2 separate regions of the Homo sapiens genome follow, and region 1 is linked to region 2. Evidence: fine-mapped expression QTL. A gene starts in region 2. The other region holds a variant in brackets. All regions are shown on one strand. Distances are between the middles of the regions.

Evidence for each region. PIP is the estimated chance that this variant, and not a neighbour inherited with it, causes the effect.
Region 1: its variant is fine-mapped to the expression of ALYREF in lung (TOPMed, PIP 0.91).

What each region holds. Positions count from the first base shown.
Region 1 is chr17:81,810,768-81,820,572 of GRCh38, forward strand. GCGR (glucagon receptor) reads left to right here. Exons shown (of 14, transcript NM_000160.5): 4 at 58-165; 5 at 243-364; 6 at 455-561; 7 at 637-793; 8 at 884-1,043; 9 at 1,119-1,179; 10 at 1,416-1,485; 11 at 1,810-1,898; 12 at 2,040-2,178; 13 at 2,249-2,290; 14 at 2,707-3,241. The coding sequence ends at 2,922. Among named protein-coding and RNA genes, the nearest start is that of GCGR, 12 kb to the left of the region's middle. The variant T/C (reference allele first, on the strand shown) is at 6,446.
Region 2 is chr17:81,886,384-81,896,188 of GRCh38, forward strand. ALYREF (Aly/REF export factor) reads right to left here and starts at 5,203. Exons shown (of 6, transcript NM_005782.4): 1 at 4,940-5,203; 2 at 4,306-4,437; 3 at 2,799-2,946; 4 at 2,137-2,200; 5 at 1,858-2,035; 6 at 1,452-1,762. The coding sequence starts at 5,197. The coding sequence ends at 1,748. ANAPC11 (anaphase promoting complex subunit 11) reads left to right here and starts at 5,340. Exons shown (of 4, transcript NM_001002248.3): 1 at 5,340-5,458; 2 at 7,169-7,231; 3 at 8,084-8,203. The coding sequence starts at 8,095. RefSeq lists an enhancer at 2,022-3,221 and silencers at 3,025-3,189, 5,220-5,759, 6,640-6,855.

The DNA.
Region 1 (9,805 bases), 76 kb before region 2:
AGCCCCTTCTCCCACCCTGCCCTGCCCTGCTCTGCCCTGCCCTACCCTACCCTGCAGAGCTGGTGTGCAACAGAACCTTCGACAAGTATTCCTGCTGGCCGGACACCCCCGCCAATACCACGGCCAACATCTCCTGCCCCTGGTACCTGCCTTGGCACCACAAAGGTACCCATAGAGGGGAGGAACTGTGGGGGGGGCGGGCCCAGGGTGGGGCTGACCCCAGCCTCCCCCCACACCCCCAGTGCAACACCGCTTCGTGTTCAAGAGATGCGGGCCCGACGGTCAGTGGGTGCGTGGACCCCGGGGGCAGCCTTGGCGTGATGCCTCCCAGTGCCAGATGGATGGCGAGGAGATTGAGGTCCAGGTCAGTGGGCGGCAGGCAGGCGCGGTGGGGCTGGATGGGAACGGGCATGGGGGCCCCTGCCTGGCCCTCACAGGCCACTGTAACTCGCAGAAGGAGGTGGCCAAGATGTACAGCAGCTTCCAGGTGATGTACACAGTGGGCTACAGCCTGTCCCTGGGGGCCCTGCTCCTCGCCTTGGCCATCCTGGGGGGCCTCAGGTAGGATTCCGCCAGCGCCCGGGGCGGCCGCAGAGGACAGGGAGGAGGACGGGCGCTGACTGGCTGTGCCCACAGCAAGCTGCACTGCACCCGCAATGCCATCCACGCGAATCTGTTTGCGTCCTTCGTGCTGAAAGCCAGCTCCGTGCTGGTCATTGATGGGCTGCTCAGGACCCGCTACAGCCAGAAAATTGGCGACGACCTCAGTGTCAGCACCTGGCTCAGTGATGGAGTGAGCCCCCCTCGGCGGCCCCAGGCAGGTGGGTGGGTGGGCAGCCAGGCAGGTGGCCACGTAGCCGCGCTCACACTGCACCTGTACCAGGCGGTGGCTGGCTGCCGTGTGGCCGCGGTGTTCATGCAATATGGCATCGTGGCCAACTACTGCTGGCTGCTGGTGGAGGGCCTGTACCTGCACAACCTGCTGGGCCTGGCCACCCTCCCCGAGAGGAGCTTCTTCAGCCTCTACCTGGGCATCGGCTGGGGTGAGTGGGCTGGCATGAGAGGGGGTTAAGGCAGGCTGACCAAGCCTTTGGGACCACAGCTGCTGCCCCCCACAGGTGCCCCCATGCTGTTCGTCGTCCCCTGGGCAGTGGTCAAGTGTCTGTTCGAGAACGTCCAGTGAGTATGAGCGGCTGGACAGCCTGGGGAGGGACCGGGGGGCTGGGGTGCGGCGCTCTGGCCTGAGGCAGGGAGGGGCCGGGGATGAGCCTGGTGCCTGGGGAGGGGGTCATTTGTGACCTTCTCCCTTCCTTTTCTGAGACCCGAATTAGATCCTGGCAAAATCGGGACGGGGGTGCTGAGGGGCGGAGGGGCTGGGGGCTGTGCCCCAGTATGTGAGTGGCCTGGCCTCGCAGGTGCTGGACCAGCAATGACAACATGGGCTTCTGGTGGATCCTGCGGTTCCCCGTCTTCCTGGCCATCCTGGTGAGGAAATGAAGAGCCAGGAGCGCACCCCAGGCCCCTCCTCCCTTGGCGTCCTGAGGCTGCCCCAGGAGACAGCAGCATCCTGTCTGAGAGCGCTGGGAGGGAGCCGGCACCCAGACAGGACACCAGGACACTGGCCAGCACCCTGGACACTGAGCCAGGCTGTTCCTCCCTGGCTGTGTGCCCACCAGCCCCAGGGCTATGTGGCCCAGGGCCTATCTTGCTGCCAGGCCCACCTGCAGGAGGGTCAGGTGGGGCCTTCCAAGGGCACAGAGCTGTTCCCTGGGGCTCGGGATGCCCCTGACTCGCACCCTTCTCACACAGATCAACTTCTTCATCTTCGTCCGCATCGTTCAGCTGCTCGTGGCCAAGCTGCGGGCACGGCAGATGCACCACACAGACTACAAGTTCCGGTGGGTGCCGCGGCAGCTGGCGTCTCGAGACCTGGAGACCCTCAGGGCCAGAGGGCAGCTGGGGGTGGGGACTCCAAGCTCCACGTGGATGGTGCGGGCCGAGGGTGGGGGCGGTGGGTGACTCAGGCGCTGCCTCTGCAGGCTGGCCAAGTCCACGCTGACCCTCATCCCTCTGCTGGGCGTCCACGAAGTGGTCTTCGCCTTCGTGACGGACGAGCACGCCCAGGGCACCCTGCGCTCCGCCAAGCTCTTCTTCGACCTCTTCCTCAGCTCCTTCCAGGTGCCCGCCCGCCCGCCGGCTCCCCCGCCCGGGGCGCAGTGTGCCACCCCTGACCACCCTGTCTCTCCAGGGCCTGCTGGTGGCTGTCCTCTACTGCTTCCTCAACAAGGAGGTAGGTGGGAGTGGGGGCATCTGAGACCATCAGCACTGGCCGTCGGGGTCAGGGGCAGAGAGAGGCACAGGGATGCCAGCCCCACCCCTGCCCGGGGGTTGGAACACGTGGGGCCCAAGCCTTTCCCTCCCCCTGCTCTTATTGGGTGCAGTTGCCATGGCGCTGGGTGTCAGGCCCCCAGGACAGGTTGGCCTCAGCCCCATCGCTACGGTGTCCACCGTGGGGGTCCCCAGGTGTCTGCAGACTGCTTTCCGTGGCGATGCTGGGTGGCATAGCTGTGCCCAGCAGGGAGCTTGTGTCGCTCTGCACCCCTCAGAGCGGAGACTGGGCATCTCCGATGAGGCCCACAGCAGGTCCCGGTGGGGTGGAGAGGACAGGCAGGCCCTAGGACTGGCCTGCCCCGTCCCCCTCCCCAGGTGCAGTCGGAGCTGCGGCGGCGTTGGCACCGCTGGCGCCTGGGCAAAGTGCTATGGGAGGAGCGGAACACCAGCAACCACAGGGCCTCATCTTCGCCCGGCCACGGCCCTCCCAGCAAGGAGCTGCAGTTTGGGAGGGGTGGTGGCAGCCAGGATTCATCTGCGGAGACCCCCTTGGCTGGTGGCCTCCCTAGATTGGCTGAGAGCCCCTTCTGAACCCTGCTGGGACCCCAGCTAGGGCTGGACTCTGGCACCCAGAGGGCGTCGCTGGACAACCCAGAACTGGACGCCCAGCTGAGGCTGGGGGCGGGGGAGCCAACAGCAGCCCCCACCTACCCCCCACCCCCAGTGTGGCTGTCTGCGAGATTGGGCCTCCTCTCCCTGCACCTGCCTTGTCCCTGGTGCAGAGGTGAGCAGAGGAGTCCAGGGCGGGAGTGGGGGCTGTGCCGTGAACTGCGTGCCAGTGTCCCCACGTATGTCGGCACGTCCCATGTGCATGGAAATGTCCTCCAACAATAAAGAGCTCAAGTGGTCACCGTGCATGTCCTGGAAAGCAGGGCTGGAAATGCTGGGGCCGAAGCAGTGGGGGATGGAACAGCGGTGGGTGGTCAGCGCCAGTGCGGGCTGTTGAAGGGTCCCCCTGCTGTCCCAGTTCACTCAGAGTTGGCACTGGAACCCCGGAGGATCCCGAAGGCAGCCAGCCTGTGCCCATCTGAGCAGGTCCTGGCCACCTTCCCATCCTGGTTCTGGCGGGCAGTCCCCCTGGACGCTTTGGCCACCAGAGGGTCACCATTCACCAGCAGAGACGTGAGGGGCACAGTGGCTAAGGCGGCATGAGGCATCACAGTCCCCTGACCGACCCCATCAGCACTGGATTCACCCGAGGGCGTCTTCTCCCTGGAGGCCGTGAGGACACTGGCACCTGGCTCATCGGCCCGCCCTTCCTCTGAGCCTCCTGGCCTCCGTTTCATCTCAGCTCCAGCCCCCTCGGGCAATTTACAGGCCACGTAGCAGATTGAAGCGGGAAGAAATGGGCCTGAACATTGCCGCGGGTCCAGGCGACGGAGGAGGGCAGGTTGCCCAACTTCTGCACAGGACCCGGGGTGCGCCACACACACGCCAGTCCTCGTGCCACACAGAGAGGTCCGGCCTACGCCAGTCCTCGTGCCACACAGAGAGGTCCGGCCTACGCCAGTCCTCGTGCCACACAGAGAGGTCCGGCCTACGCCAGTCCTCGTGCCACACAGAGAGGTCCGGCCTACGCCAGTCCTCGTGCCACACAGAGAGGTCCGGCCTACGCCAGTCCTCGTGCCACACAGAGAGGTCCGGCCTACGCCAGTCCTCGTGCCACACAGAGAGGTCCAGCCTACGCCAGTCCTCTTGCCACCTCGTGGTGGGTGGGCGCCCTGCTTGCCAGCCAGGGAGCACCAGGAAAGAGCTGCCTCCTGCGTGCTGGACACAGGAGGTGCTTCAGGGTGGGGTCTCCCATTGTGTGGGGCCCAACCTGAGTCTAAGGGCCCAGGGACCACACAGCGGGGGTGGAGACAAATTCAGGGTAGAAGCTGTGAGGGGCCTGTGGTCAGCCCCCCGGGGGGTCCCTGCAGCAGGCACTGTGAGACCTACTGAGGTGTGTGCATGGGCTGGGGAAGGAGCCAGTCAGGTGCCCCTGCTCTGAGGAGCTGCTGGGAAGTGCTGCTGGGCCCTGGGGGAAGGGGTGCTCACAGCCCCTGCCTGGGCCACGTGGGCTGGAGCCGCTCAGGCAGAGCCGGACTAATTGGGGCAAATGAGGGGACAGGAGGCCTCTGAGGAAAGGTAAATAGAATTACTCACCCGCCAGGCACTGGGGCCCTCCTGGGGGGGCCCTCACCCTGCCACCCACCACAGGGCCTGCATGCAGCAGGGAGGGAAGTGAGCTGATTAGGCAAGGCTGGACCCTTCTGGGGCCCTGGGGTTGCTGTGATTGGGACGGCAAGGCCAGGAGACGGTCCCCTGAGCTGCACCTGCTGGAGGCCTGTGATCTCAGACCTTAAGGCTTCAGGCCAGCTCTACGCCCCTCCGGCCTCAGGTCCTGGCTCTCCTCTGAGCCCTGGATGCCCGGGTGCCTGTGTGGGCACGAGGCTGCTCCGAGTCAGCACACGGAGGTGGACATTCTCCTTCATGCCAGCTGAGCTCAGGGCTGGTGACTGCCCTGGGGAAACTGCCCCTCACCTGGGACCTCCTGACAGCCCTCCCCATTCCCGAGTCCCTCTGCCCTTGTCCTCTTTCACCTCTGTCCCGCCCTCATCCCTAAGGGAACTGGAGCAGGCTGGTGGAGTTGGGTGGAGTTGGGGACTGGCAGGGGGTGGACTCACCCAGGCAATAAACACTGGCCCTAACCAGGCAGTCCTGCAGGCAGGTAGGTGGAGGGACTGTTTTTTTTCTTTTTTGGAGATAGAGTCTCACTCTGTTGCCCAAGTTGGAGTGCAGTGGCATGATCTTGGCTCACTGCAAACTCCACCTCCCAGGTTCATGTGATTCTCTGCCTCAGCCTCCTGAGTAGCTGGGATTATAGGCGTGTGCCACGACACCTGGCTAATTTTTTTTTTTTTTTTTTTGAGACGGAGTTTCACTCTCGTTGCCCAGGCTGGAGCTCAATGGCGCGATCTCAGCTCACCGCAACCTCCGCCTCCCAGGTTCAAGCGATTCTCCTGCCTTAGCCTCCCTAGTAGCTGGGATTACAGGCAGGTATGTGATGCCCGGCATCCCAAAGGGGTATCTGCAAGAGTTGGGTGCTGTGTGTGCATGGCTGGGAGGAAGATGACTTTGATACCCTGGAATCTGGTGTCTGTGGACACAAAAATACTACTAAAATGAGAGTGGAGACCAGGAAAAAGGAAGACATGAACTACATGAAGGACCAAATCTAGGAGAGTCAGAAGTGCGTCACAGGAATAGGGGACCTTGAGCCAGACAGAAGGCTCAGCAGAGACACCCTCAAGGGGATGAAAGGGATTGAGTGCACTAATATTTAGAGGAGAGAGTTCAGGACTTGATTAGTGACTAGTACATAGAAAACTAAACAAATGAGGCTGGGTGCAGTGGCTCATGCCTGTAATCCCAGCACTTTGGGGGGCCAAGGCGGGCGAATCACCTGAGGTCAGGAGTTCGAGACCAGCCTGGCCAACATGGTGAAACCTCGTCTCTACTAAAAATACAAAAATTAGCCGGGCGTGGTGGCGGGCGCCTGTAGTCCCAGCTACTTGGGAGCCTGAGGCAGGAGAATCGCTTGAACCTGGGAGGCGGAGGCTGCTGTGAGCCAAGATGGTGCCATTGCACTCCACCCTGGGTGACAGAGCAAGACTCCGTCTCAAAAAAAAAAAAAAAGAAAGAAAAAACCAAGCAAATGAAAAAAGAAGGCAATTAATAATTCCAAAGAAAAGAAAAATTTGGGCAGAAAAGAACAAAACAAGCAGAATTTACCATGACTCAGTTCTGAATACAAACACAGACATCATAATGTAAACACCAACACTGATGCAACCAGAATCATGGGAGAAAAAAGATCTAGGGAGGGTGGTGGACGGGAATATCACGTATGTACTGGGGGTAGGGGAGAGAACAAAATGGGAAAAATCAAGAATAATTCACGTTAGAAATAAAAATACAGAGCAAAATTTAAAAATGCAAAGAATGAGGTGAAGAGTTCAAAGTGGTCACCTCGGGGCCGGGCGCGGTGGCTCACGCCTGTGATCCCAGCACT[T/C]TGGGAGGCTGAGGCGGGCGGATCACAAGGCCAGGAGTTTGAGACCATCCTGGCTAACAAGGAGAAACCCCATCTCTACTAAAAATTAGCCAGGCGTGGTGGTGGGCGCCTGTAGTCCCAGCTACTCGGGAGGCTGAGGCAGGAGAATGGCGTGAACCCAGGAGGCGCAGCTTGCAGTGAGCCGAGATCGCGCCACTGCACTCCAGCTTGGGCAACAGAGTGAGACTCCGCCTCAAACAAAACAAAACAAAACAAAAAAACAAAGTGGTCATCTCTAGGCAAGGTGGGTGGGAGATGGCTAGGGCTGCAGGTCCACTACGTGAGCTGGCTCAGCCTATCCCCAGACACCCTGCACTCACTCAGCCCGGGGTCCTCCCCCTGCACTCACTCAGCCCCGGGTCCTCCCCTGCACTCACTCAGCCCCGGGTCCTCCCCCTGCACTCACTCAGCCCCGGGTCCTCCCCTGCCTGCTCTTTCTCTGACCCTGCCCTCCACTGTTCCTTTTTCTTCTTTCTCTCCCTGTTGTGTCCAGGAACCAGGCACCACCCTCATTTCTTCTTGATCAATCTTTAAAAACCAGCAGTGCTCAGCTAACTCTTCATCTATCTCCCCCGACCTGGGGCTCTGCTGAATCCACGCTTTAGACCCAGCTATCAGCTCGGCATGTACAGCTGGATGTCCACACCGAGCTGCTCACCCTGTCCCCAGCTTCTTCCTCCCACTGTCCACTGCAGAAGCCTCCTAACAGGACCCCTGCTGCTACCCCGGACCCTGCAACCCATTCCCACACAGCAGCCAGATGCTTTGACACCCGAAGTCTCCTATGAATCCGATGAGGCCTCTGCACCACACCTCATTTTACAGAAGTACAGGGGAAACAGGGGTCTGTTGACACCACAGAGATGCAGCTGGCCAAAGGCAGAATGTGGGGTACACGACTGTCAAACGCCAGGGGTCCTTACACGAATGGTGGAAAAAGAGGGGCATGTTACGGATGGAGGCTCGGGACACATGGGCGCCGCCTTCCCATGCTGCCAGCAACCCACCAGGAACCTATTAATTTAGTCATTTGGGAAATGGGAGCTGGGTATATCGGCTATTAGGAAATTGTTCATGCTCAATAAGTATTAATTACAATTTTCATAAGAGCTTAACCCCCCTGAAAGAGGTCACTGTTTCCTCACTTGTAAATTGGGATACTAAAACCTGCCCCATGGAGTTGCCAGAGTGACATGTGTGCGTGCACACCAACAGTACACAGCAGATAGTGACATATGTGTGCACGCCAACACTACACAGCAGATAGTGACTTGTGCGTGCGCGCCAACACTACACAGCAGATAGTGACACGTGCGTGCACACCAACAGTACCCAGCAGATAGTGACATATGCGTGCACGCCAACACTACACAGCAGATAGTGACTTGTGCGTGCACGCCAACACTACACAGCAGATAGTGACATGTGCGTGCACGCCAACACTACACAGCAGATAGTGACTTGTGTGTGCACGCCACTACACAGCATAGTGACTTGTGTGTGCACGCCAACACTACACGGCAGATAGTGACTTGTGTGTGCACGCCAACACTACACGGCAGATAGTGACTTGTGTGTGCACGCCAACACTACACGGCAGATAGTGACTTGTGTGTGCACGCCAACACTACACGGCAGATAGTGACTTGTGTGTGCACGCCAACACTACACGGCAGATAGTGACTTGTGTGTGCACGCCAACACTACACGGCAGATAGTGACTTGTGTGTGCACGCCAACACTACACGGCAGATAGTGACTTGTGTGTGCACGCCAACACTACACGGCAGATAGTGACTTGTGTGTGCACGCCAACACTACACGGCAGATAGTGACTTGTGTGTGCACGCCAACACTACACGGCAGATAGTGACTTGTGTGTGCACGCCAACAGTACACAGCAGATAGTGACATATGTGTGCACGCCAACACTACACAGCAGATAGTGATGTGTGTGCACACCAACACTACACAGCAGATAGTGACATGCGCGTGCACGCCAACACTACACAGCAGGTAGTGACATGTGTGTGCACACCAACAGTACACAGCAGATAGTGACATGCGCGTGCACACCAACACTACACAGCAGATAGTGATGTGTGTGCACACCAACAGTACACAGCAGATTGTGATGTGTGTATGCACACCAACGGTACAACACGCAACAGTTGCAGTTGCCTCATTTCCCCAAGTCGCCCTCACTGCAGAAAGGGGAGTGTCTCCAGCTGCTTAGTCCAGCAGCCTCCAGGATTGGGTGAGGGTCGGAGGGCCCTGGTGCCCTGCATGGACAAGGCAGTGGCAGCAGGGCTGAAGGACAGGCTGGGGTGGGAGGACCGCAACCCTCTGGGATCGGGCCCCACGGTCAGCTCCCGCAGCCCAGGGGAGAGGTGCCCACTCTAGCAGCCCTTTATGTGCTCCTCAAGCTGAAAGTAGAGACCCCGCTTTGTGACTACAGTGAGTTCTCACACCATTAGGCGAACGGCTGGGGTAAGACCACCCTGTGGCCCCTGCAGAGCTGACCTCACTGGGTGGTCCACCGAAGAGGGGATGGGAGGGCAAGTTTGCTTCAGGGTCAGAGGTCCGGTCCCGGTGGGTGCACCTCCCCAGCCCTCAGGTAGGTTAGGCCCCCTCTCCCGCGTCCCCTCCCCCTCCTCACCCCAATCCCCTCCCCCTCCTCACCCCAATCCCCATCCCCCACGCGGTGCATCGGGTGAAGGGGTGGGGCCTCCAGCAACACCGTGGGCTCAGCGCTCCCCACAGACTCCTACCCTCCTGCCCAGCATGTGCCTGGCCAGGCCGGCCCCCTCCTCTGAAGGGTTCTTGGCAGAAAGATCTCCAAATTGAAGGTTTCTGGTGGCAGGCCCAGGTGCTGGGGCCATACCTGGGGGAGCTCCACCCCCCGGCTGTAGGTAGGCAAGGCCCGGATTCCAGGGCCCAGTGTAAGATGACCCAGGTGAGCCCAAATCAGGTCCATCTCTTAACACAAGGAGCTCCCTCGGCACCTCCTGTGTGCTACACAGGGGTCCCAGCACCCATGCAGGGGAGAGGCCTTTGGATCACCACAGCCCACACTCTGTACAGAGGGATAAACTACTGCTTTGCCTGTAGAGTAGCCATTCTTTTATTTATTTTTTTCTTTTTCTTTTTTTTTTTTTTTTTTTTGAGACGGAGTCTTGCTCTGTTGCCCAGGACGGAGTGCAGTGGCGCAATCTCAGCTCACTGCAACCTCCGCCTCCCGGGTTCAAGTGATTCTCCTGCCTCAGCTTCCCGAGTAGCTGGGATTATAGGTGCCTGCCACCACACCCAGCTAATTTTTAT
Region 2 (9,805 bases):
ACCGACAGCGAAAGAACCACCCTTAGTCACACTCCCTTGCCCATGACTCAGCCAGGCCCATCCCAGCGTGGAAGCAAGCTTAGCCTGGGATGTGTGCCCGCAGGAGCCGCTGGTGCAGGGAAAGGTTTCTGCAGACACGGCATGCATTCCTGTCTGTCTCTCCACTACCACTGCCCACTGCCCTGGGCTTCCTTACATCCCAGCTGTGGGACAGTGGGGTCAGGCAGAACTCTGGAGCTCCCTTGTCCCCCTTCCCATCTCATTCTCAAAGTGCTGTCACCAACCCAGCATCAGGGGGCACAAGGCTCTCTCTCCACTGCCCAGCTTGGAGTGCAGTGGCATGATAATGGCTCACAGCAGCCTCAACCTCCAGGGCTCAAGCGATCCTCCCACCTCAGCCTTTAGAATAGCTGAGACCACAGGAGCACGCCACCACACTCAGCTAACTTTTGTATTTTTAGTAGAGATAGGGTTTTGCCATGTTGCCTAGGCTGGTCTCGAACTTCTGGGCTCAAGAGATCCTTCTGCCCTGACCTCCCAAAGTGCTGGGATTACAGGTATCAGGCGTTGCCCTACTCCTTTTTGAGACGGAGTTCACTCTTGTTGTCCAGACTGGAGTGCAATGGCACAATCTCGGCTCACTGCAACCTCCACCTCCCTGGTTCAGGCGATTCTCCAGCCTCAGCCTCCCAAGTAGCTGGGATTACAGGCATGCACCACCACACCCAGCTAATTTTGTATTTTTAGTAGAGACGGGGTTTCGCCATGTTGGCCAGGCTGGTCTTGAACTCCTGACCTCAGGTGATCTGCCTGCCCCAGCCTCCCAAAGTGCTGGGATTACAGGCGTGAGCCACCGCGCCCAGCCGCCCCACTCTTAAATGGACGGATTATCACAGCTTCCACCAGCCACTTCATCAAATATACAACTAAGAGAGGATCCTCATGCCTTGCTCCGTGGCAAGGTTAAAAACAACAACAAAAAAACAAACAGAAAAAGGAATTACACTACAAAGTCAAAACTGCTGAATCCACGTTTCTCTGAAAACCAGAGTACAAGAAGGAAAGGAACAGCCCAGAGATGTTCTGGCTGTGGGAAGCCTGTGGACGGCACACAGGGCAGCCATCCCACCCCAACCTCCCCTCACCTGGAGGCACAGGCACAAGGGTCAACAGGTGGCTCCCGGGCAAAGGTGTCCTCCCACCTGGTGAGTTAGAGAGGAAGGTGTTAGGTGTGAGGCAGGAAAGAAGATAAGAAAGAAGACAGGCAGCTTCGGCCCTCCAGGAGCGGGGACCCCCCGCCACCCCCACAACCCATGCCAACTTCAGGTGTCCAACACCAGATGGGGCTGCTCCCTCCATCCCCAACTCAGGTTCTCCCACCCCCTCCCAGCTGGACAGACACCAAAATCCTGGCCCAGGCCTGGACTCCAACAGTGGGACGAATCAAACAGTTCCAGTTCTACACACATTTCTATTTTATTATGGAAAAGGTGGAAACGCCACCTTCTCCACAACAGCAACCAGTAAAATTTATCCCAAAAATAACTCGGTACAAAACAGGTCTGTTTCAGAATTAAAAAAAAAAAAAAAGAAAAAAAAAAAACCTTTACATGAGTTTTTAAATCCTATTTTAAAACATAAAAGAAACAAATCCATCATTGGCCGCACAGCCCCAGCCACCGCCCCCCAACCAGGGAGCAAGAGGAGACGCCTGGGTCCTGTTCCGCACGCGGATTTGCTGGTCTGTTTAACTGGTGTCCATCTGAAACACAGAGGAGAAAGAGGCTTGCATTCACAGGCGGCCTGCTCCCCACTGCGGCTTTGACCAGGCCCCCAGCTGGCTCCCCCGGGACTCACTCTCGCATTATAGGCGTCCAGCTGGGCATCCAGCTCCTCTGCCGAAAGCTGCTGCTTTGAATTCCTGCCGGCACCTCTGCCTCTTCCACGGGCGCCTCCGCGGGTGCCTCTCCGGGTGCCTCCACCACCACCAAAACCTCCAGCGCCACGGTTTCTAGTCATGCCACCTCTGTTTACGCTAGCAAGGAAGACGAAACCGTTCACACACCCGGAAGGACCCTAAGAGCGACGCAGCCTCACCCTCGGCCAATCCCCTTCCCCAGAGGCCCCGGAAGTCACCTCTGTGCAGGCCTCCGCTGTGCGTCAATCTGTGACGTGACAAGCTGAATGTTCATGGGGCGGCCTGCGGCAAAGAATACGAGAAGGCACGTTCTATTGAGAGGCTCTGAAACCCACCCAGCTGGCGCCACACCCTGGTCTCCATGCAAACACTGGAAAGGGCCTCTGTGCGTCTCAAATGCCCCCGACAAGGGAAATGGCCTGGAGATACTGGTGGGAGAACAAAATGGCAAGGAAGCAACCCCACCAACACCTCCTCACTCCTTCTCAGTCCAGACTAGGTGGGCTGCTCGCTGAGGTATCGGGGTGCTCGTGGGTGGAGAGGTGTGGGTGACCTGACGAAGAAGAACCGGTACCTTTGTCTTTACGACTACAGCCCCGCACTCAGAGGTGTACTATGGCGGTTCTGAGAAGGCTTCACAGAAGTGAATCTTCCGGAAGGAGCTGAAGGAGGGGAGGGATGTAGCTTGCTGGATGGGGGTTCACAAGAGGTTGGTCCAGATGTGTGGGGCAGCATGAGAGGTGGCAGATGGAAGAGAGAGACAAAGGGGCAAATGCAAAGTGTCCTCAGCCACAGGGGTACCCCATATTCCTACCTGGACAGGTGCCAGCCCCAAACTCCACAAGCCCCACAGTCAGCGTGGGTCCACCCCCAGACTCACCATCCAGAGGGACGCCGTTGTACTGCTTCATGGCCTTCAGGGCATCTGCCTTCCGCTCAAAGTGCACGTCTGCTGTTCCTAAGCTGCGACCAGAGCGATCATAGTGCACAGCCGCCTTCTTCAGCGTTCCAAATTCAGCAAAGAGTTCCTGGGAGTTGCAGAGAGCAGTTGTCAGAAAAGCAACAAAACTGCGTTCCTTCTGGTGGCCCAGGGACAGGCCCTGGAAGCGTGAGTTGCTTTGGGGGTGGTTCTCTGGGAGGCAGGACAGTGGTTAACGGGAAATGAGGGAAGGGCGGGGCAGGAGGGACAGCAACTTCCAAGAGCACCTGGGTCTGAGGGCTCCTGCCATTGTGGGGACCTGACACGTGTACCACGATGCAGGTAGAGGAAGCTGCAAAGCCCACTAGCAACGGGCACAAAATTAAGCCACTATCCTCTTCAACAAAGGAAAATGTACAACACACCCAAGGGCTGTTCCAAGAAACGGTAAAGGCCAAAATCAAGAGCAAGGGAAGCAGTCCGATATCAGACCAGCTTGAAGGGCCTGTAGATTCGGGAGCCCTGACCCCAGCCCCTCCCCCAAAGGCAGATTCTGGCTCACCTTTCCCTCTCCTCCTACTCAAGCCTGCGGCAAAGTCTGAAGTCAAGCGCTGTCATGGAAACTGCCCTGACCTCAGGCAGGCTGGGAGTTGGAGAGGGAACCCAGAGTGTGGGGATACTCCGGCCGCAGGCACACAGCGGGAACTGGAGTTCACCAAAAGCGGTTTCCAGTGGATGCTAGAAACCACCTTAAAAAAAGTGTTGAGACACTGTGAGTGCTCACTGGCCCTACTCTGTCCTCCCAAGGCAAATGGCTGGGCTGTGGGCAACTGAACCCTGCCCAGCCATCTCCAAAACTGATTCCCAAAAAGTCATTTCTTAACCAGAAAACAAGTTGAAATGCCATTGGGATTCAATTTTTCTTTTTTTAAAAAAGAAAAGCTTCAACCAAAGATGGATTTGAGAGTCATGTCACTGACGGGACACGGCGGTGGGGAGTGATAAAACCACAGCGTACAAGGTCTTTATAAGACAGTACTCAAGGCAAACAGAGCCAGAAAAACAGACTCCCTGTGCTTCACAAGATACATAAAGAAGATTCTTTTTCTCACATTAACCCACTAAGACAGGCACAAAATTTAAAAAGCAACTGGGCTGGGTCTAACAGCCAAAAACCACTCACATTTGGTCAGTCTTTGTCCCTGTTAGAAACTGGAAGCCCTGGCAGGGGATTTTCACTCACAGAACCCATCTTCAGACTAACAGCAGCAGTTCCTCAGGCTCAGCTAGGCTCGCACCTGCCTGCGCACTGACCCCGGCTTTACTAGCACTGGGTCTGTCCTGCAGCCCTTCAGAGCTGGGAGGGCTCCCTTCGCTAAGGCGGGAAGGGGACTCAGGGCCACATCCCCAAAATCACGATCCGTCCTGTGCAGGGCGAACGGCTCACCGAGAAGCCCTCGTCTCTTACCTGAATATCGGCGTCTGAGACTCCAAAATCCAGATTGGACACCAGCAGTTTCCCACCTGTCTCCACGCCGGCACCACCGCCGAAGCCACTGTCGAAAAGATCGTGCTGCCACTTGTCGGGAAGTTGTTTTGGCTGAAAAAAAAACCGCAACAAGAGCAGATCTGTGAGTCTCAGTCCAGGGCTTTCCTGACCCTCACGGCTACTCCGGACCCTTCCTCTTCCCGGCCTGAGAGGATCCGGCCGAAACGGGGCCGCCAGCGCTCCCTCCGGCGCTGCAGCTGCCCCAGCCCGAGGCCGCACGGTCCCACCGCGGCCGCACAACTTCAGTTCCCTTAGACTAACTTCCCGCCGCCTGTGCCGCGCCCAGCGTCCCCTCCTCTCCTGCCACGAGGCCCCAACGTCCGGAACAAACAAAGAGCTGGGAAGGGTCTCAGCCTCCGGGACCGGACCCCGAAAGAACGACCTCGCTCCCGCCCACCACCCCCTCCGCGCCCACACGCACCCTCCGGACCTCCGGGCGGCCGCTCCACCAGCCTTATCCACCCGCCGGCCCGGGTCTCCGCCGCGAGCGGCCCCGGCCCCAGCCCCGGCTGGCCCCCTCCCACTCTCCGGCGCGGCCGGCCTCCGCACTCACCCTGCTGTAGGGCGCCGGTCGGTTCCTGCCGCCTCCGCCGGCCGCGCCGCGGGCGATGGCCGGCCGGTTCCGGATGGGCCCGCCGCCTCGATTCACTCGCGCGGCGGCCTGCGCCCCACCGCCGCGGCCGCCCTGGGAGCCGGCCCGGCCGCGGCCCCGGCCCCCGCCCCGGCCGCCTCGCTGGCTCCGGTTCAGTTTAATGATGTCGTCCAGAGACATGTCCATTTTGTCGGCCATGGCGGGCGCGGAATCGGGCATCGGCTCGAGCCCGCGCGTCAGCACGCCGGCACGTCACTTCCGGCGCCGCGTGAGGCCTTCCGGTGCCACGGCCTCGGAGCGGCTGCTGATTGGCCGCTGGCGGACGGCTGCGCGCGCGGGACGGGGTGAGGCGGGGAGGCGCGTGCGCACTGGCGTGCGAGACTCGGCGGGCGCTGTTGAGGGAGTCGGGCCGCGACTGTGGTCGTTTTTATACCTTCCCGCGCGGACGCCGGCGCTGCCAACGGAAGGGCGGGTAGGGCGGTGCGTGATTAGGTTGGCGAAGGTGCGAGGGCGCAGGGGGTGGGGCGGCGGCCGTTGGAGGCGGAGCCTACGCGCCCCTCCCTCCCCGCACGCTCCGCCCGATCGGCCAGGGCTGGGGGCGCTGGGGGCGCTACGGGCGCGGCGGGTGCCTGGGAGCTGCTGGGAGTCCTTGTTTCCGCTCCCGCCCAGGACTGTGCGCTCGGCTCGCGGTGGGGTCCGGCGGGCGCGGCTTCGGCGGGCGGCAGCCGCTGCAGACGAGCTGCGGGTTGGTTTTTTGGTCTCCACCTGCAGCCCCCCCAAGTCTGCACTGTCACATTTTGCCAGTCATATCCTTTACAAGTTTTCTTGCGGGCCGGGCGCGGGCCTCACGCCTGTAATCCCAGCACTTTGGGAGGCCGAGGCAAGAGGTTCGCTTCAGCCCAGGAGTTTGAGACCAGCCGGGGCAACATCGTGAGACCCCCATCTCTAAAAAAAAAAATGAGCTGGGCATGGTGGTGCACTTCTGTACTACCAGCTACTTGGGAGGCCGAGGTGGGAGGATTGCTTGAGCCCAGGAGGTCGAGGCTGCAGTGAGCCGTGGTGGCACCACTGCACTCCAGCCTGGGCGACAGAGCCAGACCCTGTCTCCAAAAAAAAATTATTTTTGCAACTTATTAATGAAAACCAGTGTGCCATTTCATTGATTTTTTTTTTTTTTTTTTGAGGCAGTCTCATTCTGTCGCCCAGGCTGGAGTGCAGTGGGGCGATCTCGGCTCACTGCAACCTCTGCCTCCTGGGTTCAAGCGAGTCTCCAGCGGCAGCCTCCCGAGTAGCTGGGACTACAGGCACGTGCCACCATACCTGGCTAATGTTTGTATTTTTAATAGAGACAGGGTTTCGCCATGTTGGCCAGGGTGGTCTTGAACTCCTGACCTCAGATGATCCGCCCGCCTTGGCCTCCCAAAGTGCTGGGATTACAGGCATGAGCCACCACACCCAGCCCATTTCATGGATTTTAAGTTGTTTTGAGATACTTGCTTTTGTTTTTGTTTTTTGAGTCAGGGTCTCCCTCCGTCACCCAGAGTGGAGTGCAGTGGTGTGATCTTGGCTCACTGCAGCCTCAAACTCCTGGGCTCGAGCTATCCTCCCACGTCAGCCTCTCAGGCAGCTGGTGCACGCCACCACAGCTGGCTTTTTTTTTTTTTTTTGAGACAGTCCCACTATGTTGCCCAGGCTGGAGTGCAGTGGTGCGATCTCGGCTCACTGCAATCTCTGCCTCCCAGGTCCAAGTGATTCCTGTGGCTCAGCTTCCCGAATAGAGCTGGGAGCTGGCGTGATCTCAGCTCGCTGCAACCTCCGCCTCCCAGGTTCAAGTGATTCTCTTGCCTCACCCTCCCGAGTAGCTGGGATTACAGTTGCCCACCACCACACCCGGCTAATTTTTTGTATTTTTAGTAGAGACAGGGTTTCAGTATGTTGGCCAGGCTGGTCTTGAACTCCTGACCTTGTGATCTGCCTGCCTCAGCCTCCCAAAGTGCTGGGATTACAGGCGTGAGCCACTACGCCTGGCCTCTAATTTTTGTTTTTTTGGTAGAGATGGGGTTTCACCATGTTGGCCAGGTTGGTCTCGAACTCCTGACCTCAAGTGATCCACCCTCCTCGGCCTCCCAAAGTGCTGGGATTACAAGCATGAGCCACCACCTGCGGCTAATTTTTTTGTATTTTTTGTAGAGACGGAGTTTCGTCATGTTGGCCAGGCCCATTTGAGATCTTTGAAGATATCCTCAACGTGAGGTAAAACCAAACTCCTGACTGTCCTGTGCTCCCAAATGTGATCTCCTTGTCCGTAAGGAGCTGAGTCCCTTCCCTTGGAGAGAAGAGTGTGCCCTTTCTCTAGATGGCTAAAGAAACCTCACAGATAGTTCTTTTTTTTCCTTTTTTTTTTTTTTTTTTTTTGGTAGAGACTCAGTCTCACTGTGTTACACAGGCTGGTCTCAAACTCCTGAGCTCAGGCGATCCTCCCGAGTTGGCCTCCCAGAGTGCTGGGATCACAGGTGTGAGCCACAAAGCGGATTGCTGCTGGGGCTTGCTGTTCTCCCGTAGCTCCCCTGCAGCCCTGACCCTCTGGGCCCAGAGCCCTTTACTTGTTATTTGTTTTAATAGAAACGGGGCTCATAGCAGGGCATAGGGGTTCACGCCTGTAATCCCAGCACTTTGGGAGGCCGCAGTGGCAGATCGCTTGAGGCCAGGAGTTCAAGACCAGCCTGGCCTACATGGTGAAACCTCGACTACTAAAAATACAAAAATTAGTCGGGCGTGGAGTCACGTGCCTATAGCCTCAGCTACTCAGGAGGCCGAAGCACAAGAAATGAGCTGAGATCATGCCACTGCACTACAGCCTGGGTGACAGAGTGAGACTCTGTCTCAAAAAAAAAAAATTAATAAAAATAAAAGTAAAATAAAATAGAAACAGGGCTCACGATGTTTCCCAGGCTGGGTTCGGACTCCTGGGCCGGTATGATCTTCCTGCCTTGGCCCCCTGAGTAGCTGGGACTGCACTGTGGCAGGCTTATACCTGTGTTGGTGCCTAAACGTTCTAGCTCTGCAGACTCAATTTAGCCAGTCGTCCTGTTCCCTCCGCCGCAGGCTCTGCTGCCATGAAGGTGAAGATTAAGTGCTGGAACGGCGTGGCCACTTGGCTCTGGGTGGCCAACGATGAGAACTGTGGCATCTGCAGGATGGCATTTAACGGATGCTGCCCTGACTGTGAGTGTCCCCTCCATGCTGTCTGAGCGGCCCCGACTGTGAGTGTCCCCTCTGTGCTGTCTGCTGCCTGCTGGACTAGCCTCAGTAGCTCCTGTTAAATACCTGCACGAAATACCCAGTTTCATTTTCTTTTTTTTTTTTTTTTTTTGAGACCGAGTTTCGATCTTGTTTCCCAGGCTGGAGTGCAATGGCGCGATCTCGGCTTGCCGCAACCTCTGCCTCCCGGGTTCAAACGGTTCTCCTGCCTCAGCCTTCCAAGCAGCTGGGATTACAGGCATGTGCCACCATGCTGGGCTAATTTTTTTATTTTTAGTAGAGACGGGGTTTTGCCTTGTTGGCTAGGCTGGCCTTGAACTCCTGACCTCAGGTGACCTGCCCGCTTCAGCCTTCCAAAGTGCTGGGATTACAGGTGTGAGCCACTTTGCCTGGCCCACATTTTTATTTTCTTTTCTTTCTTTCTTTTCTTTTTTTTTTTTTTTTTTTTTGAGATGGAGTTTCACTCTTGTTGCCCAGGCTGGAGTGCAATGGCGCGATCTCGGCTCACTGCAACCTCCGCCTCCTGGGCTCAAGCGATTCTCCTGCCTCAGCCTTCCAAGTACCTGGGATCACAGGCATGTGCCACTACACCCGGCTAATTTTGTATTTTTTAGTAGAGACAGGCTTTCTCCATGTTAGGCTGGTCTCGAACTGTCAACCTCAGGTGATCCACCCGCCTCAGCCTCCCAAAGGGATGGGATTACAGGCGCGAACCACCGTGCCCCCCCCAACATTTTCATTTTCATCTCATGAAGAAAAGTTGATAGAAAAAAAGCCAGGTGGTTGGTACCCATGTTTATATAAAGATCCTGTCACAGACTCCATAGGATGAAACTCAGCTGTGAAATACGTGGGATTAAAAAGAGATTAGAGTCTGGGCGGGCAGATCACAAGGTCAAGAGATGGAGGCCGGCATGGCGGCCCACGCCTGTTATTCCAGCACTGTGGGAGGCCGAGGCGGGCGGATCACAAGGTCAAGAGATGGAGGCCGGCACGGTGGCTCACACCTGTCATCCTAGCACTGTGGGAGGCCAAGGTAGGCAGATCACAGGGTCAAGAGATCAAGGCAGGGTGTGGTGGCCCACACTTGTCATCCCAGCACTGTGGGAGGCTGAAGTGGATGGATCTCAAGGTCAGGAGATTGAGACCATCCTGGCCAACATAGTGAAACGCCATCTCTACTAAAAATACAAAAATTAGCTGGGTGTGTGGCGTGTGCCTGTAATCCCAGCTACTGGGGAGGCTGAGGCAGGAGAATCTCTTGAGCCTGGGAGACGGGGGTTGCAGTGAGCCAAGAGCAAGACTCCATCTCAAAAAACAAACAAAAAAAAGATTAGTTTAAACTTTTTATTTGAAAATTCTCAAAATTGAATGGCATAGGCCAGGCGCAGTGGCTCACACCTGTAATCCCACCACTTTGGGAGGCCAAGGCAGGCGGATTGCTTCAGGCCAGGTGTTCGAGACCAGCCTGGCCAACATGGCAAAACCCCGACTCTACTAAAAATCCAAAAAAATTAGCCGGGCATGGTGGCAGGTGCCTGTAATCCCAGCACTTTGGGAGGCCGA